2 linked regions of the Homo sapiens genome follow. The protein of the gene in region 2 interacts with the protein of the main gene of each other region in a biochemical or structural test. Each region holds a gene or a part of one and is shown on either strand. Other genes may lie near its edges.

Evidence for each region. Proteins that work in one complex are often made in the same cells at the same time.
Region 1: of the proteins of PRKCB (region 2) and SYT6, one has a biochemical effect on the other in vitro, tested with the Homo sapiens proteins (one study listed by BioGRID).

What each region holds. Positions count from the first base shown.
Region 1 is NC_000001.11:114,140,370-114,143,869, reverse strand, and holds part of SYT6 (synaptotagmin-6), read left to right. Parts: intron 1-3,500.
Region 2 is NC_000016.10:24,184,645-24,189,914, forward strand, and holds part of PRKCB (protein kinase C beta type), read left to right. Parts: intron 1-466; coding exon 467-547; intron 548-815; coding exon 816-923; intron 924-5,270. UniProt on the Homo sapiens protein: Calcium-activated, phospholipid- and diacylglycerol (DAG)-dependent serine/threonine-protein kinase involved in various cellular processes such as regulation of the B-cell receptor (BCR) signalosome, oxidative stress-induced apoptosis, androgen receptor-dependent transcription regulation, insulin signaling and endothelial cells proliferation.

The DNA.
Region 1 (3,500 bases), on a different chromosome or scaffold from region 2:
GGGCATACCCCTTTCTTGGGATAATGGGCATCCCTGGGGTCAGGGGTGGGCTGGGGGTGGGGGAGTGAGAGCCCACCTCCAAACCAATCACAACATTTAAAATACCAGTTTTACAGCAAAGCTCTTGAATAGCCACAGGAATGGAGGAGGACAGCTCTAGGAATCATTTGTACACAAATACCTTGGAGATATTGTAGGTTCAGTTACAGACTACTGCAATAAAGCACATATCAAAATAAAGCAAGTCACACAAATTTTTTGGTTTCCCAGTGCATATAAAAGTTATATATATATACACACACACACACACATGCACATAAGTTATATATAACTTATATGTATATATACACATATAAGTTATATATAACTTATACATATATACATATGTATGTATGTATATATAGATATATATAACTTTTAAACTGTGCTACTTTTATACTATATATGTATATATACACACATAACTTTTATACTATACTACTTTTATACTATATATACATATATGTATCTAAAACTTTTATACATATAAGTATATGTAATTTATATATGTACACATGTAAACATATATATAACTTTGTGTAATTCTATTGTACACTTAATAGACTAAAGTATATTTTATAAAAAGAAATAGAATTATTAGAATAGCACAATAGAATTAAATAAAATATATATAGTATAAAATATACTGTAGTCTATTAAGTGTATACAGTATATACATATATGTATATATACATATATGTGAATATATACATATACACACAGTATAAAATATACTGTAATATACTGTAAATATAATGGCATCAAGAATGGTGAATCCTATTCATATGGTTTTCAATTTACTTTGCCCAGATCCATCAGAGGAATCACTATCCATGGCAGCTAAAGCCTTACAAAAAGTATACATTGTAATATATTTACCTATATATATACACATATACAGTGTAAAATATACTGTAGCCTATTAAGTGTGCAATAAAATTACACCCAAAAACAATATATACACCTTAATTTTAAAAGCTTGATTGCTAAAAAATGCTAAATTGCTAAAAATGAGCCTTCAGTGAGTCTTAATCTCTTTTTGCTGGTGGAGGGTCTTGCTTCGATGTTGATGGCTGCTGACTGACCAGTTTGGTGGTTGCTGGTGGCTGGAGTGGCTGTGGCAATTTCTTAAAATAAGACAACGGTGAGTTTGCTGCGTCAATGGACTTTTCCTTTCACTAAAGATATCTCTGTAGCATGCACCGCTGTCTGATAGCATTTTATCCATAGTAGAACTTCTTTCAAAATTGGAGTCAATCCTCTCAACCCCTGCCACTGCTTTATCAACTAAGGTTATGTAATATTCTAAGTCCTTTGTGGTCATTTCAGCAATGTTCACAGCATCTTTACCTGGAGTATATTTTATCTCAAGAAGATAAAATATTTACTCATCCACAATTTATTTACTCATCCACAAGAAGCAACTCCTCATCCATTCTTCAGGCTCCACTTCTAATTCTGGTTCTCTTGCTATTTCCACCACATCTGCAGTTATTTCCTTCACTGAGGTCTTGAACCCCTCAAAGCCATTCACGATGTTTGGAATCAACTTCTTTTAAATTTCAGTTAATGTTGATATTTTGACCTTTTCCCCTGAATTATGAATGTTCTTAATGGCATCAAGAATGGTGAATCCTATTCAGACAGTTTTCAATTTACTTTGCCCAGATCCATCAGAGGAATCACTGTCTATGACAGCTAAAGCCTAAGATTTGAAAGTTGAAATTACTCCTTGATCCATGGGCTGCAGAATGGACGTTGTTTTAGCTGGCATGAAAACAACATTTATCTCCTTGTACATCTGCATCAGAGCCTTTGGGTGACTAGGTGCATAGTCAATGAGCAGTAATATTTTGAAAGGAATCATTTCTTCTGAGCAGTAAGTCTCAACAGTGGGCTTAAAATATTCAGTAAACCATTCTTAAACAGATATGCTATTATCCAGGTTTTGTTTTTCCATTTTTAGAGCATAGGCAGAGTAGATTGAGCATAATTCTTAAGGGCCGTAGGATTTTTGGAATGGTAAATAAGCACTGGGTTCATCTTAAAGTCATCAGCTGTGTTAGCCCCTAAAAAGAGAGTCAGCCTGTCCTTTGAAATTTTGAAGCCAGGCATTGACTTCCCCTTTCTAGCTATGAAAGCCCTAGGTGGCATCTTCTTCCAATATAAGGCTATTTCTTCTACTCTGAAAATGTGTTGTTTAGTGTAGTCACCTTCATCAATTATCTTAGTTAGATCTTCTGAATCACTTACTGCAGTTTCTACATCAGCACTTGCTGCTTCATCTTTGAACTTTTGCATTATGGAGAGGACTTCTTTCCTTAAACCTCAAGAACCAACCTCTGCTAGATTCAAACGTTTCTTCTGCAGCTTCCTCTCCTTTTTCAGTCTTCATAGAATGAAAGAAAGGTACTGTCTTGCTCTGGATTAGGCTTTGGCTTAAGAGAATGTTGGGGCTGGTTTGATCTTCTGTCCAGACCACTAAAGCTCTCTTCACATCAGCAATAAGACTGTTTTGCTTTCTTATCATTTGTGTGTTTGCTGGAGTAACACTTCTGATTTCCTTTAAGATCTTTTTCTTTGCATTCACAACTTGGCTGTGAGGCACAAAATGCCTCGCTTTTGGCCTGTCTTGGCTTTTGATATGCCATCCTCACTAAGCTTCATTATTTCTAGCTTTTGATTTAAAATGAGAGTCATGTGACACTTTCTTTGACCTGAACACTTAGAAGTCAAAGTAAGGTTATCAATTGGCCTAATTTCAATATTGTTGTGCCTCAGCAAATAGAGAGGCCTAAGGAGAGGAATGGCCAGCCAGGGGAGCAGCCAGAACACACACAACATTTATCAATTAGGTTGGCCATCTTACATGGATGCAGCTCAGGACGCCTCAAAACAATGACGATAGGAATATCCAAGATCACTGATCACAGATCATAGATCACCATAACAACCATAATAGTAATTTAAAAGTTTGAAATAATGTGAGAATTAACAAAACGTGACAGACACAAAATGTGCACATGCTGTTGGAAAACTGGCACAGAAAGACTTGTTCAAGGCAGGGTGGCCACAAATCTTCAATTTGTAAAAAATACAGGATCTGTGAAGCACAATAAAGTGAAGCATAGCAAAATGAAGTGTGCCTCTATTTAGCTTTGAAGTGCACTGTGTAGATCAGATTCCAACTTAATAGAAGTATTTATTGAGCCTACTATGCACAGAGTTCTGGGAGTACAGAAGAACATAATCCTTGCCCTTAAAGAGATTATGCTCAATCTCATTCACTTGAAGTCAACTCAATGTTTATTGAGTTCCTGTCTTGGGCTCAGTGGGGATGGGATAAAGAAGAAAAGAGGATGAGTTAGCCAGCCTCTGCCCCCCAAGGTATCACACCCTGTTAAGGAAGTGGGCTGTAGACAAAAATGACTCTAAGTCTGGCCATAGTAGCAGCTTTAATA
Region 2 (5,270 bases):
GAGCTATCTTTTATAAAGAAATATTAAAATAGTGACAAATGTTGTTATCTCTTAAACGTTTTTATGTTTAATTATGTTTTAAAAACATGTAACGTAAAATTTACTATTTTAACCAGTTCTAAGTATACAATTTAGTAGTGTTAAGTATATTTACATTATTGTGTAAATGTTGTAACTTTTACAGAGGAGTAAAGACAGTTTTTCCTTTTAAAAATTCCATGCTCACTGTTTTGAAAATAATAATAACAATACACCTTACTTAGTGCTTCGAAAAGGCAATGTGACAGCCACAGGTGTTTGCCCAGCTGCAGGTGCCTCTGCAAAGCATGTCTGTCATTCCCTGAATAGCTAATATAAAGAAACAGTTCAGGTGGGCACTGGCCTTCTTGTAAAAGAAGAGTGAAATCTGTCTCCAGAAGAAACATGAACTGCAAACCTCCCTGATAGGGTGCCTTCTCTTTTCTAGATAATTGCTTATCAGCCCTATGGGAAGTCCGTGGATTGGTGGGCATTTGGAGTCCTGCTGTATGAAATGTTGGCTGGGCAGGTAATTGAATTTTAAGTGATCGATAAGAGAAGTCCTCCCTACCCCCATCCACATGGTTTCTTTAGGAGAATGCATGTTTGGTAACAGCTCATAAATTGGAACCTCTATGACTTTCCCGGCCTTGGGGTCATACAAGTCTGTGGTCATTTGAAAGCCTGGGTGTGTGGCTTCACTGTGGGCCCCAGGGAGGAGGGTCTGCCAGTTGAGGGGAGCTAGGGGGAGGGTTCAAGCAGGGATTCTTCTCCTCCCACCCTCCCCTGTCATACAGGCACCCTTTGAAGGGGAGGATGAAGATGAACTCTTCCAATCCATCATGGAACACAACGTAGCCTATCCCAAGTCTATGTCCAAGGAAGCTGTGGCCATCTGCAAAGGGGTAAGTGCATCTCTTAAAGCTGTGACCAGGACCACCACATAAAGGCATGTGGGCTGTACCTTGCCCAAGAACACCCCACCAGGGGGGAACACAGCCTGAACTCCACCCTTCACTCCATTTGCCAATATGAGAACCCTGATGTGGAGCTGCTACCTCCCGGAGGAGAGAGAGCTTTTTTTCTGATTTGCACAGAAGTGCTGTAGAGAGCTGCCTGCAGCTGCGTCTTGCTGCTGGCTGGGCTGCAGTCTCTGAACCAGCACAGGGGAATGCTTATTGAATGAATGAGGTAGAAAGCACAGAGATTTTGTCAAAGAGCTGGAAGTCATGGGAAAGGGCACAAGAGGTCTTTTGCACAACTCAGGCTATCTTGCCCTGCTCTGCTGTATGTGTTTAGTTAATACTAAGAGCGTGCAACTTTTGTTCTAAAAAATACCACGCCGTGTTGAGGTTAAGGAATTCTCTAGATAAGCAGACTGAAATTCAATGTACTCAAAATCCCACTGTCTCCTCTCCCCAGACACACACACAAATGGCTAAAAGGGCATGCACGCTTGGACATCTACGGTTTATGCACAGGGCACCTGTGAAGAAAGCAGGATGTGTGTTTATGGGGAAGGATTGTTTGTTTTGCATCTTGTGTTGGACCAGGGCATACTCACAGTGACTTCTGTGAGATCCTAAAGATCAGCGACCCTCACCTTTGGAGCCATCAGAATAACCCGAAGTGCCTTACCAGAATGCACATGCTTCTGCCTTACCCCAGAGATTAAGTCTGGGTATGAGTATTTTGGAAAAGTCTCCATTTGGCTTGCAGACCACTGCCTTTAAAAATACTGTCCAAATGAAGTGATTTTTCAACTCTGATGGAAGCCTGAAAGCAATAGAATTAGACGCCCAGAAAATATGTTCTACACATAATATACTAATAAAGGATTTGCTCTCCCTCCACCCAGTGGTACAGGTTAGAACATGGCCGTGCCTTAATCAGTGGGTTCCCACCTGTGTGTCTGAATAAACCAGGGCTGCCAGTCCTAGATCTGTGGGATGCTTGCAGACTTTTCATGCCCTACTTTGTTCTTCCTGACCCCAGCCAGATGCTGGATGCACTGTCTTGGGTGAAGGAAAGCTGGGAAACTCAGGCAGGCCAATCTGAGGCTTGGCCCAGTTTGGAATAGCTGGGCCAGCCTCTCAGCCTAAAAGCGCCTTGTCACACTGCCTAAATTCCCACTCTCAATGAATCACCTAAGGTTTGCACCTCAGCTGCATAGGCTAAGATGCATGTATCCCTGGGGAAACCACCTGTGAATTAGTCTCAATCCCGAACATCTAAAGTGAATTGCTTGAAAATATTTTCTTTGAGGGTGTGAGGCAGGGAGAAAGAAAGTGAAGAATAGAGAGGGGAGTCCCAGAGGTGCATTAGGAACCCAAGCAAAGCCCATAAAGAAAAAAAAGGCACACACGAAGGCCTCCACAGGCCCCCGTAGACAAGTTATTGAAGGGTGGGGGCGGGTAGAGAGAAGGTGGTACCTGGAGCTTTTAGTTTGTTTAATAATTACCAGCATATAAGGATCCAGAGATTTCTCAAAAACATTCAGCTTTCAGGTTTCTCTTGAAAAATCAGATCTTGCCACATTGGCCTGTCATTCTTACAAAGCACCAGTCAGCTGGATTGGAAACCATGGCCCTCTGTAGTTGGAGCTTGCCCTCTGTAATTCTCAGACGTTCTCATTTGGCCAATTCTCTCCAAGTTCAAATCCTGGTTCAGGCATTAATTGCCGCAGGACCTTGGGGAAGTTGTTTGACGGCATCTGCAGATTGGGGATAATAATAGCACTCCACATTGGGTTCTTTGATGACTAAACAGCTGAATACTGTAAATCACTTAGAATAGAGGCTGGCACTCTGCTCCAAGCCCCTTGGAAGTTATTATTACTATTACTAGTGCTGACGCTATTGTGTTATCTGCCAGGTTCCTCTTGGCATTTGAGTTTGCATCCCCTGGAATTGCAACTTTTAAAGTAGGGGATTTTGGAGATCAAGGGACCCTTTGCAAATCTTGACCCTTCTACTTTCTAGGCACAAGGTGTTTTTGTTTTGTTTTGTTTTGTTTTGTTTTGTTTTGTTTTGTTTTATCAATGTCTCGCTCTGTCGCCCAGGCTAGAGTGCCGTGGAGTGATCATGGCTCACTGCAGCCTTGATCTCCCAGGCTCAAGGGATCCTCCTGCCTCTGCCTCCCAAAGTGCTGGGATTACAGGCATGGGCCACTGCACCCAGCCTAGGTGCAAGATCTTAAGCCACTTCCTTTGCATCTCTGGGCTTCTGTTTATTTTAAAAAATGGAATAGTAGTACTCATTGAAAAGAGTTTTTGAGAGCATTAAATGAGATAACATAAGAGAAAGCTCCTTGCATGATGTGGGCACATAGTAGGTGTTTAATACATCCACAGGGTCCTCCCCTTCACACGCCCGCCCTGCCTGGACAGCTGGGGGTTCTAAATGGGTCATGGAGGAAAGAGCATTTTCCAGGTCAGCTGCCTTCAGCTCCTGCTCCAATTAGCAGTTTCCCTGGTAGAGCCGTTTTCTATTAATTCAGGACCCATAACCTTCATGATTAACTGGGGTGACTCTCTTACTATTGAGTTTGGGGACCATTATTAATTGAGTGGGCTGAGTCCAATGGGGCTCTTCCTTCAAGGAGGGTACTCCAAAAACGAGTGATGCTCAAGCAAACAGCCAAATGCTTCCTCTGGAACAGCGAGCCCCAGGGGATACGTCTGGGAGGTGATCAGAGATTGGAACAGTGATTAAATCCAGCTGTCTACATGGCTTCGGGCACATTAGAGCAGAGTGCGGGAACTGGGCAGAGACTCCGAATTAATGCTGGATGTTTTTGCAGTACCTTTTCTTTGCTTGGCATCCTCCTGCTTAGACAGAAATTCAGTTGAGCTTTTGAAAACAGTCACCTGTTTAATTGAAGCAGTGTCCTTTATATGTCCATTCCCTTAAAGGCCCGATTTTCTACTAAAAAAAAAAAATTAGTAAAACCTTACTCAGATGGCTATTCCCACTTTGAACAAACTTGAAGCAAACAGAAGCCCAAATAGACAGGACCTTAGGGTGAAAACCAGCAGACACTGAACAGCTGAGACTGAACATAAAGCTATAAGAGTCCTGAGCCAGGCAGAGCTGTTCAAAGCCTTGCCCTGCTCCTTAGCTGTTTGACCTTAGGCAGATGACTTTACTTCTCTGCACCCACATCCTTTACCTGGAAAATGGGGGATAATAGTTGCTGAGGCCTTAGAGTATTGTTGCAAAGTTTAAAGAGTAATGGGTAATGGCCGGGAAGCCTTTAGCACGGAGCCTGAACGCATATGATGTTGTCATACTCAGTACACGGAAGCCGTTATTGATGTTATTATCAGTGTGAACCAAAACCTCACTGCCCTTTCTTTCCTCCCATCCTAATCTTACACAAATGTCAAGCCTTGGCTCAATTTCCTCACCCTCCATAAACCTCTCCTGACAAAGCCAGGCCACAAAAATTCCTGAGAAAACCACGTGTGAAATGCACTCCCATTTTTCTTAAAAGCCCAAGTTTTAGAGCTAGGCAGAGGTGGAGTCTGCACCCAGCTCTTACTGACTCTACCACTTCCTCTCTGGAGTCCTTACTGTTCCTCAACTTCTCTGAGTGTTCATTGCCTTTTTATTCAAATGGGAAAAATAGTATACTCACCTCATTGGGTTATTATGATGATCAGGGAAGCTCATGCATGTAAATAAAGAAGTAGCAGCTCGGCGCGGTGGCTCTTGCCTGTAATCCCAGCACTTTGGGAGGCTGAGGCAGGCAGATCATGAGGTCAGGAGATCGAGACCATCCTGGCTAACATGGTGAAACCCCGTCTCTACTAAAAATACAAGAAAATTATTAGCTGGGCATGGTGGTGGGCGCCTGTAATCCCAGCTACTCGGGAGGCTGAGGCAGGAGAATGGCGTGAACCCGGGAGGTGGAGCTTGCAGTGACCCGAGATCGCGCCTCTGCACTCCAGCCTGGGTGACAGAGTGAGACTCCGTCTCAAAAAAAAAAAAAAAAAAAAAGAAGTAGCTAGCTTAGAATGTAAGTGCTCAGTTAATTTCCCCACCCTGGAGGATACACTTTATATGACAAGTACATGCTTGTGTGTGAGACCACAAATTATCTTGCGAGGGGGCAACAGGCTGAGTGACTGTCCAACAGTGTAGGAATGAATTTCTGGGTTCATTCCTTCCCCATCATCAGCAAGTCCTGGGCAGAAGATTCTGCCATCATGGGCTTCTCAATGTGATGTCAACTCTGGAAAGCTTTTGGAC